Homo sapiens: one gene and its partners. The protein of the gene in region 3 purifies or fractionates together with the protein of the main gene of each other region. This does not show direct contact. Each region holds a gene or a part of one and is shown on either strand. Other genes may lie near its edges.

Region 1 (3,669 bases), on a different chromosome or scaffold from region 3:
TCCCCTTAGTTGAGCCAGGTGTGTCTAGCTACGTAAGCTAAACCTACTGGTACAGATGCTAGTTTTTTGGGCTGTGTTTTTACAGAGCTTTGTGTTTATATTATTTGATTCAGTAAGTGAGGATCCTGTTTTCTCTTGGAGACAAAGTATCAGAAAAGCAAATCAATGAGAAACATTTATCATCTGCTTGATTTGTTATTTTTCTTTTGAAAATCATTATTCATATGTGTAACTTATTATTTCCCCTTTCTTATGCCTTTGTTTTTCTAGTTTGCTTTGAGTGATTAGCCAACCATTCTTCTCTCTCTCTCTCTCTCTCTTTTTTTTGTTCCAGTGACTCTCCCACCTCAGCCTCCAAGTAGTTGGGGCCACAGGCATGTGCCACCACACCTGGCTAATTATTTTTTGCAGAGACAGGGTCTCCCTGTATTTCCCAGGCTGGTTTCGAACTCCTGGCTTAAGTGATCCTCTTGCCTTGCAAGGCATTCTTTTAGTGTTTACTTCTTTCATAATACCTATGTGTTTTTGTGATGTACAGAGTATTTGTTTAGCTTTCAGAAAGTTACCATTATTTATATATTCTTCATATCTGATAAGATAGGTATACATACCCTAGTTTTTAGAAAATAAGAACTCTATGTCTGTTGATTAACAGTGGGAATTTACATTTTATTGTTTAAAAGCGGATATGGGTAACTCAAGACTGACTAGCTGAAGTGAGTTTTCTTTAATCGTTTCCTTCTGTAGACTGGAATGCAGTGGCTTTTATTTGATATGTGTATTTTACTTTTGGGTAACCATAGGGAAGAACAATTACTGCATTTTCTTTTTATATGTTTGGCACTTGCAATTATTTACGTGAAACAAAGCATTCCTATCTAAATGTATTGACTGATTAATAATAATGTTTTAGTTTATTCTTTTTATCTACTCTTTAACCAACATCTCCTCACTTCCCCCAATAATGTTTTTTGATTTGGTAAGAACTAACAAGAGCTCAGGCTTTGATGTTAAGATAGCGTGGGTGTGAATGCTGGTTTGGTCACTTACCTGCTGTGTGACTGTGGACAGGTTACTTAACCTCTCTAAAATTCAGTGCTTTCAGCTGTCAAACGGGTGATGATAATAGTGCTGGGAGGATTAAATGGGATAATACACATGAACTAACTGCTTAGCATAGAATACAAGATGCTTCTAAAACTGTAGCATACTGCTTGGCACAGAGTAAGTACAGTACTCCAAAAATGTTCTTATTATGTTTGTATTTTATATTTTGAGGTAGACTTAGATTTGGTTTTATCTTTTGTATTTAAACAAGGACTTATCAGATACCTCTCAAGACTTCAGTTTCTTATGTAAAACTGCCTATTCTGAAACTTGTGAAAATGTTCATGGTATTAAGTGATATGTTAAGTTTTAGATAGGTATATATTCAACAAAACCTGCTGAACTTACGTATCGACAGAGCCAGGCATGGTCCTAGCAGTCCTTCAAGGCTTTTATACTTGCTGTTTCACCTGCTTGGAGTACTTTATCCATGGATTGCTTTCTCCCTCATTTCATTCAATTTCTGCTTAAATGTTACCTTAACAGAGTTGGAGAGGCTTTTGCTAACACCCTATTTAAACTAGCACCCCATACTCTGTCACTCTGTCTCTTTACCCTATTTTACATTTGTTCTTAGCCTGACTTATTATGTGTGTATATATGTATAATGTGTTTCTTTGTTTCACGACATAAGCTCCGTGAGAACCTTTTTGTTTGATCTTTGTATCCCCGGGGTCTAGAATGGTACCTGGCACATAGTAAGAGCTGAGTGAATTTTTGTTGTTTTTTGATAGAAATAAAGCACTTTTTCTGTTCTCAGTGAAACAGATGTGTAAATGCATTGTTTTCTTCAATATAATAGTTTGAAAGGACAACCTGTAGAGTTTGAGGAACATTGTTTTGTGCAGGAGACAGCAATGTTGTGGTGCCACTGTATATCCTTACCTTTTTAGTACTGTCAAGCAGTGTCATATGTGGATGGTTTTATTTTTTTGGTTTGGAATAGCGGTCAGTCAGGTTTAAAATCTAGAATAAGTAATTATATTTTCACTAACATGGTTTTAACCTTTTAAAATCTTAGATATTTTTGAAGATTATGCTTCTCCCACCACAGCAGCCCAGACTCTCTTATATACTGCTGCAAAGAAAAGAAAAGAGGTATTTCATTTTTCTTTTTAAATCCAAAACTGAAAGGTGGCCTGTGTTGAGTTGATACTCTAGTATATCCCTAGTATTTGAGAAATTATGTTGTTATTCGTTATAATTTGTCACCTTAAGGATTTTTTTTTTCCTCTCCTGGTGAGGGGAAAGGGGGTATCATGGTTATTTCGTTTTCTTAATAAATTATACTTTTCTTATTGAGCTTATAGTTGCTTGATAAAACATAATAAAATGGCTTTATTTTTAAAAATTTGTGCATCATAGTTAATACTATAGTAAGACAATGAAAGTTCATGTAGACTAAATGGATTCTTCTGTTTCTTTAGGTGTTGCCAAAAATGATGGCATTCTGTTATCAAATCCTGACAGACCCGAACTTTGACCCTAGGAAGAAAGATGGAGCCCTGCATGTGATTGGTTCCCTAGCTGAGATTTTACTGAAGGTTAAGATAATCAAAATTTAATTTACTTAATAACATTGTAAAGTACAGGCAAATGAGAGAATATGAAAGTTATGGCTAATTTAAAGCTGGTGACTACCTCTGGATAATTGAGTTCACAACTATCCTCCTTTCTGTCATCTATTTCTTTAATTAAAAAGAAAATTTGACTGTTTAAAGTTTTCAGTATGAAACTATTGATATGTGAAAGGGATACAAAGTATCTTATGTCTACAAAATCAATCAATATCAAACTGATATAAGGTAATATTTGTCTTGTTTTAAAACATGCAATATATAGGTCAAATAATTTTACAAAATTAGAAGTATATTAAATGCAAGTCATAGTAAACACACTTGATTAGGAAGTGATTCTTACGTATGAAAAAGAAATTGATAAGTTGAAATTTGTTTCCTAATAGAAGAGTTTATTCAAGGACCAAATGGAGCTGTTTCTACAAAATCATGTATTTCCATTATTATTGTCTAACCTGGGATATCTTCGAGCTAGAGTAAGTTTTTCATATTTCTGTTATGTATCTTAAATCTTCATAAGATAATTATTCAAATAAATGTTTTTTGGATAAATTGACCTTTTGCCACATATTGAGATGAAATAGAGTCAATTAGAATGTCTGCCTATGGTCACATCAGCTGAATAAAGGACAGACTATTAAAGAAAAAGATTTATAGGCTGGGCGCAGTGGCTCATGCCTGTAATCCCAGCACTTTGGGAGGCTGAGGTGGGCGGATCACTTGAGATCGGGAGTTTGAGACCAGCCTGGCCAACATGGTGAAACCCTGTCTCTACAAAAATACAAAAAATTAGCTGGGCTTCATGGCAGGCGCCTGTTATCCCAGCTACTAGGGAGGCTGAGCCAGGAGAATTGCTTGAACCCGGGAGGCGGAGGTTGCGGTGAGCTGAGATCGTGCCACTGCACTCCAGCCTGGACAACAGTGAGACCCTGTCTCAAAAAAAAAGGAAAATATTTATGGATTTTATTTCCTGCTGGTTTTATTT
Region 2 (3,669 bases), on a different chromosome or scaffold from region 3:
TGTAATCCAGCACTTTGGGAGGCCGAGGTGGGCGGATCACAAGGTCGGGAGTTCGAGACAAGCCTGATCAACATAGTGAAACCCCGTCTCTACTGAAAATATGAAAAATTAGCCGGGTGTGGTGGTGGGTGCCTGTAATCCCAGCTACTTGGGAGACTGAGGCAGGAGAATCACTTGAACCCGGGAGGCGGAGGTGCAGTGAGCCAAGATCACGTCATTGCATTCCAGCCCGGGCAACAGTGCAAGACTCTGCCTCAAAAAAAGAAAAATAAAATAAAAGTTCTGGCCGGGCATGGTGGCTCACGCCTGTAATCCCAGCACTTTGGGAGGCTGAGGTGGGTGGATCATGAGGTCAGGAGATCGAGACCATCCTGGCTAACATGGTGAAACCCCATTTCTACTAAAAATACAGAAAATTAGCTGGGCATGGTGGTGGGTGCCTGTAGTTCCACCTACTCAGGAGGCTGAGGCAGAATGGCATGAACCTGGGAGGCAGAGCTTGCGGTGAGCAGAGATCACACCACTGCACTCCAGCCTGGGCGACAGCAAGACTCCATCTTAAAAAATAAAATAACATAAAACTTCCTAGTTGGAAAGCATAAAAATAATATTTTAAAATTATTTTTATTGTTATTATTTTTTGAGACAGGGTTTCACACTGTTACCCAGGCTGGAGTGCAGTAGTATGAACATGGCTCACGGCAGCCTTGACTCTCCTGGGATTAAGCTATCCTCCTGCCTTAGCCTCCCAACTAGCTGGGACTACAGGCGTGCACCACCACACCTGCCTAAGTTTTTTATTTTTTGTAGAGACGAGGTCTGTCTTTGTTGCCCAGCCTTGACTCCCAAGTGCTAGAATTACAGGTGCGAGTCACTGCACTTGGCTTATTACTGTTTTTTTAACAAAGGCAGAGGGACGCAGTGAAGAGCCTTAGCCTTGTCCTGAGTCTACGACTATAATGACTTAACCTCACTATGCCTTATATTTCATGTAGCCAAGGTAGATGTCATATTTGCCTTTGTCAAATTCTTTTTTTTTTTTTTTTTTTTTTTGAGACGGAGTTTCGCTCTTGTTGCCCAGACTGGAGTGCAATGGCACAATCTCGGCTCGCCACAACCTCCGCCTCCCGGATTCGGGCAATTCTCCTGCCTCAGCCTCTTGAGTAGCTGGGATTACAGGTATGCATTACCACGTCCGGCTAATTTTGTATTTTTAGTAGAGACGGGGTTTCTCCATGTTGGTAGGCTGGTCTCGAACTCCCGAGATCCGCCCACCTTGGTCTCCCTAAGTGCTGGGATTACAGGTGTGAGCCACTGTGCCCGGCTTGTCAAATGCTTTAGTAACAAGAAAGGTTAGAAGTTCCTTGGCTCTTGAAATTACCTGGTTGTATTTAATGTAAAAATCTGATAGCACGGGATTCTTCTACCTCCTGTGTTCCTTAAAAATGGTCTGAAGTATAGTAGCTAATTGAAAGTCTCTTTGGTTATATTTCAATGGAGAGAAATAATACAAAGTTACAGTTTTGGCCGGGTGCGGTGGCTCAGGCCTGTTATCCCAGCACTTTGGGAGGCCAAGGTGGGTGGATCATCTGAGGTCAGGCGTTTAAGACCAGCCTGGTCAACATGGCAAAACCCTGTCTCTACTAAAAATACAAAAATTAGCCGGGCATGGTGTTGCGTGCCTGTAATCCCAGCTACTCAGGAGGCTGAGGTATGAGAACCGCTTGAACCTGGGAGGCAGTGGCTGAAGTGAGCCAAGATTGCTCCACTGCACTCTAGCCTGGGCGACAGCAAGACTCTGTCTCAAAAAAAAAAAAAAAAAAAGTTACGGGTTTGAAGAGTATGTTTTAAAAGATACTGACATTAGTGATTACATTGGAAAATGTGGGTCCAGAGGGAAAACTGATTTTGAAGACATGAGTTACATACAGAGTGTCTAGTTTGAGGAGCTGGTAAACATCAAGTAGAAAAAGTCTAGCAGGCAATTGGAATGTGGAGCTGAAGTTTAGGAGAGAAAGCAGCAATGGAAAAGTGATATTCTTCTGCAGGCAGGTGATTACAGTAGTATGATCCAAAGGTATGGGATGGACTAGAGGGCTAAACTTTCAACCATGCCTATTTTGGGTACTTTGATAAACATCTGAAAAAGCAGACTGGAGATTTTGGGCATAAAAGTAAGAGAGAAGCCAAGAAAGATAATTTTAAGAAGGTTGCTTGTGGTTAGTGGTTAGTTTCCTTTTTCTTTTTCTTTTTTTCTTGAGACGGAGTCTCACTGTTGCCCAGGCTGGAGTGCAGTGGCACAGTGACAGCTCACTGCAACCTCCGTCTCCTGGGTTCAAGCAGTTCTCCTGCCTCAGCCTCCCTAGTAGCTGGGATAACAAGGCAACCACCACCACGTCCGGCTAATTTTTTTATATTTTTAGTAGAGAAGGAGTTTCATCACGTTGGCCAGGCTGGTCTCGAAGTCCTGACCTCAGGTGATCCACCCTCCTCGGCCTCCCAAAGTGTTGGGATTACAGGCGTGAGCCACCACACCAGGCCTAATTTCCTTTTTCTTACATAGATTTAATAAATTCTCTACCAAAGAGCATGAATTACTTTTGAAAATGAGTAAAAAATTTTTAGAAAAAAGAAAGGGGTGTTGATACTCCTAAATGAGAGAGGTTAAACAAACTGAAGACTTTCTGGGAAAATGCATTAAAGTATCAGTAACCTTGGAAAAGTAATTTCTAATTTTTTTCTTTTAATTTTTTTATTTTTTTGAGACAGTCTCTCTCTGTCTCCCAGCTGTAGTGCAGTGGTGCTATCTCGGCTCACTGCAACTTCTGCCTCCCAGGTTCAAGTGATTATCCTGCCTCAGCCTCCCAAGTAGCTGGGACTACAAGCGTGCGCCACCACGCCCAGCTAATTTTTGTATTTTTAGAGATGGGTTCCACCATGTTGGCCAGGATGGTCTCCATCTCTTGACTTCGTGATCCGCCCTCCTCGGCCTCCCAAAGTGCTGGGATTGCAGGCGTGAACCATCGCCCCCAGCCTTTTAATTTTTAAAATTATTATTAATTTTCCACGCAGTCAGAGGGGAAAGCAATTTCTGATTACAGTGTTAGTGAGTGGAATGCTAGTAAGGGGGCAGGGATAAGATTGTAAGTTAAAAGGGTGGCCATATTGGGAAATTCGTTGATGTGAGAGTGTGCGTTTTTCTTTTTCTATTTTTTAAAGTTGAGCTTATTTTGGGTGGCAGAGAAAGCAGCAGGGAAGCTTGGCTGTATAGTAGAATAGGGGCCTAGGTTTTTGAGGCCTGTTGCTACTACCTGTTGTACTAATAGTTTTTCATTCATGTTTTATAGTCATCATTCCTTGAATTACATTCTTCATTACATTCTTCACAGTGCTTCAAGAACTCATTTTCCTATAGCATAAATCTGATCATGTATAACCCTTCACAAAAAATTCATACTCTTTAAATTTTTTGGCCACAACCTACCAATTCATTTTTATCTTTCACTGTTCAAAGTCTTCTCTGATTTCTGAGTTTACGTCCCTTAGGTTCTAACTTGAAATTTTACTTATTAGCCCAATTGGAATTAAACTCCCAACATAACTTCATACTGATCTTTTTTTCTCCATAGTGTCTGGCGCATTGTCAGTACTAGTAAGTAGAATGGAGTT
Region 3 (3,669 bases):
TTTTAGTTTTTTGAGGAACCTCCAAGTTGTTCTGCATAGTGATTTTACTGATTTACATTCCCAACAAAGTGTACAAGGGTTCCCTTCTGTTCACGTCTTCACTAGCATTTGTTATTGCCTCTCTTTTAGATATAAGCCACTTTAACATACACATCTTAATTAAGCTAAGTGCACGAAAATAATGGAATCGACGTATCTTACAAGACATAACATACGATATTATGCAACCAATAACAGTCTCTGTCTTTCTGCCTGCCTGCCTGCCCTCCTTTCTAACTTCCTTCTCTCTTCCTTCTTTCATTCTTATTTATTTATTTATATTGTTTTTGAGATGGGGTCTTGCTCTGTCGCCCAGGCTGGAGTGCAGTGGCGCAATCTCAGCTCACTGCAACCTCCACCTCGCGGGTTCAAGCGATTCTCCTGCCTCAGCCTCCCTAGTAGCTGGGACTACAGGCACGCACCATCATGCCCAGCTAATTTCTTTTTTGGGGGTTTTGTTGTTGTTGTTGTTGTTTGTTTGTTTTTTTTGAGACAGAGTCTCGCTCTGTCACCCAGGCTGGAGTGCAGTAGCACAATCTCAGCTCACTGCAACCTCTGCCTCCGGGGATCAAGTTATTATCTTGCCTCAGCCTCCCAAGTAGCTGGGATTACAGGTGTGCACTACCACGCCTGGCTAATTTTTTGTAGTTTTAGTAGAGACAGGGTTTTGCCATGTTGACCAGGCTGGACTTCTTTTTTTTTTTTTAAACAGAGTTTCACTCTTGTTGCCCAGGCTAGAGTGTGGTGGCACAAATCAGCACACTGCAACCTCTGCCTCCCAGGTTCAAGCAATTCTCCTGCCTCAGCCCCTCAAGTACCTGGATTACAGGCACCTGCCACCACGCGCAGCTAATTTTTTGTATTTAGTAGAGACAGGATTTCGCCATGTTGGCCAGGCTGTTCTCGAACTCCTGACCTCAGGTGATTCACCCACCTCAGCCTCCCAAAGTGCTGGAATTACCACCGTGCCCAGCTGGCAGGCTGGTCTTGAACTCCTGGCCTCAAGTGATCAACCCGTCTCAGCCTCCCAAAGTGCTGGGATTACAGGCATAAGCCACCACGCCCAGCCTGGACTCATTTTTGAAAGACATTAGATTTGCCAGGCCCAGGTTTGCTGTGTGTTTTGTGTATTTCACTATTTCGCTTATTTATGGGACCCCACTTAGCTCTTTCCTGATCATTCCCAGACCATGGAAGATAGAAGTGTCCTGCTGTCTGCAGATAGTTTATGTGTAGCCACAGGAATGCTCAAGAATATATAGACCTCTAGTCATATAACTGTGCTTATTATACTTCCTTCATGCCACAGGCCTGCAGCTGTAGATTCTGTCATGCTTCATTACCTCCTTCCTCCAGTACCCTTCTTCATCTCCTCCAATGTCCTTGGCCGAGTGCAGTGGCTCAGGCCTGTAATCCCAGTGCTTTGGGAGGCTGAGGCAGGAGGATCACTTAAGACCAGGAGTTTGAGGCCAGCCTGGGTAACATAGTGAGATTCTGTCTCTACCAAACAAAATATTAAAAATCAAAATTAGGCTGGGTGCAGTGACTCACGCCTGTCATCCCAACACTTTGGGAGGCCAAGGCGGGCGTATCATGAGGTCAGGAGTTCAAGATTGACTAACATGGTGAAACCCCATCTCTACTAAAAATATAAAAATTAGCCAAGTGTGGCGGCGCACACCTGTAATCCCAGCTACTCAGGAGGCTGAAGCAGAAGAATTGCTTGAACCCAGGAGGAAGAGGTTGCAGTGAGCCAAGATCGTGCCACTGCACTCCAACCTGGGTGACAGAGCGAGACTCTGTCTCAAAAAAAAAAAAAAATTCTTCATCTTCTCATTAAGATATTTCCTGGATAAATTAGCTTGTCAAAACCTGACCCTACTCATCAATTTTAACCTCATTTAAAATGGGTCAGGTGGGCTGGGCACGGGGCTCACGCATGTAATCCCAGCACTTTGGGAGGCTGAGGCGTGCAGATCATGAGGTCAGGAGATCGAGACCAGCCTGACCAACATGATGAAACCCCTTCTCTACTAAAAATACAAAAAATTAGCCGGGCACAGTGGCACGCGCCTATGGTCCCAGCTATTCGGGAGGCTGAGGCAGGAGAATCACTTGAACCCAGGAGGCGGAGGTTGTGGTGAGCTGAGATCGTGCCATTGCACTCTAGCCTGGGCAACAAGAGCAAAACTCTGTCTCAAAAAAAAAAAGAGAAAAGAAAAAAAATTGAGAACACTGGGGCAATTAGAATTTAATCTGTTGACTGGGAAATTATTGATACTTTTATTAAGTATGATAATGATATTCTGATTATTATGTGTTTTTCTAAGAGAAGTTGTTGATAATCTGTTGGATACTAAAGTATCTGTGGGTGAAGTATTATGATGTTTGGCATGTGGGATTTGCCTCACAGTACATGGGGAATAAAAGATAGAAGGGAAGAGATAAAACAGGGTACACCTTGTTAACTGTTGAAGCAGACTGGTGCATATCGGGGGGCCATTACTGTCAACTATTCTCTGTACTTTTGTGCATCTTGAAAATTTTCATAATAAATGAAAAAAGTTTCTTAATGTACACTAATGCGTGGGTTTATTGTTTCAGGGACTGGTGACATTCAGGGACGTGGCCATAGAGTTCTCTCTGGAAGAATGGAAGTGCCTGGAACCTGCTCAGAGGGACTTGTACAGGGAGGTGACTCTGGAGAACTTTGGTCACTTGGCCTCACTAGGTAAGGAGATTGTATCACACGGGCCAGACGGAAAGCAAGGCAACAGGGACTACAACCATGGGGTGCAGTTTCCATCTCTGCCTAAATGGGTGAGGAGAGGAAACTGTCACAGGAGACGCTACAAACTACAGCCATAGAGAGAGGCCCGGCCAGCAATAGCTGTAGCTACTTCCAGAGCTCCTGGGTCAAAGGAGGGAGAGAGGAGGGTAAGAAATGCCTGGTGCTCTCTCTCCTCCTGTCCACTGATCTCCAGCTGATGCTTTCTGTCTGCCAAAGCCAATGAGAAGCCATAGGGCATGGGTAATGCAGTCCTTACGGTGAGCTGTCGGGATCCCAGAGCTGGGCACAGAACAAGGCCAGGAGCATCAAGGAATAGATTGGAGGGGAAGGAGGGGTTCATGGAGAGTGATCACCACACATTTACTCCACATAATTCAGGACTACCCTTCTGGAATTTCTGGTTTCTTCATTATGAATTTCTAGGGCAACTTACAAGTTTCTGACTGAATTTCTGGTGACTGAAAAATTGTTTTGTGCTTTGTGGAACTAGAAACAAGTCATTCTGCTGGGCAGCTCGGTCTTCCTATCCTTTGGACAACCTTCCACCTACCTTGTAATTGCGTCTTTTCCATGGTGACCAGGGAACTGGGTTTGGATTTTGGAGCGGTCTGATCACACCCCATTTCTTTTCCTGTAAACAGGACTCTCCATTTCTAAGCCTGATGTCGTCTCCTTATTGGAGCAAGGGAAAGAGCCCTGGATGATTGCAAATGATGTGACAGGACCATGGTGCCCAGGTAAGCGAGGGCCGATTTCGACAGGGGAAGGTCCCTGGATGAGTCGACTGACAGGAGTAACTTGAGTTACTGTGGGAAGTTCCCTCAAAGCCCTACTGTGGA

The links.
Region 1: the proteins of ZNF565 (region 3) and IPO8 purify together in Homo sapiens (co-immunoprecipitation; one large-scale study listed by IntAct). This does not show direct contact.
Region 2: the proteins of ZNF565 (region 3) and IPO7 purify together in Homo sapiens (co-immunoprecipitation; one large-scale study listed by IntAct). This does not show direct contact.

Annotation. Positions count from the first base shown.
Region 1 is NC_000012.12:30,664,711-30,668,379, reverse strand, and holds part of IPO8 (importin-8), read left to right. Parts: intron 1-2,128; coding exon 2,129-2,205; intron 2,206-2,534; coding exon 2,535-2,651; intron 2,652-3,070; coding exon 3,071-3,160; intron 3,161-3,669. UniProt on the Homo sapiens protein: Involved in nuclear protein import, either by acting as autonomous nuclear transport receptor or as an adapter-like protein in association with the importin-beta subunit KPNB1.
Region 2 is NC_000011.10:9,391,142-9,394,810, forward strand, and holds part of IPO7 (importin-7), read left to right. Parts: intron 1-3,669. UniProt on the Homo sapiens protein: Functions in nuclear protein import, either by acting as autonomous nuclear transport receptor or as an adapter-like protein in association with the importin-beta subunit KPNB1.
Region 3 is NC_000019.10:36,194,131-36,197,799, reverse strand, and holds part of ZNF565 (zinc finger protein 565), read left to right. Parts: intron 1-2,643; coding exon 2,644-2,770; intron 2,771-3,471; coding exon 3,472-3,567; intron 3,568-3,669. UniProt on the Homo sapiens protein: May be involved in transcriptional regulation.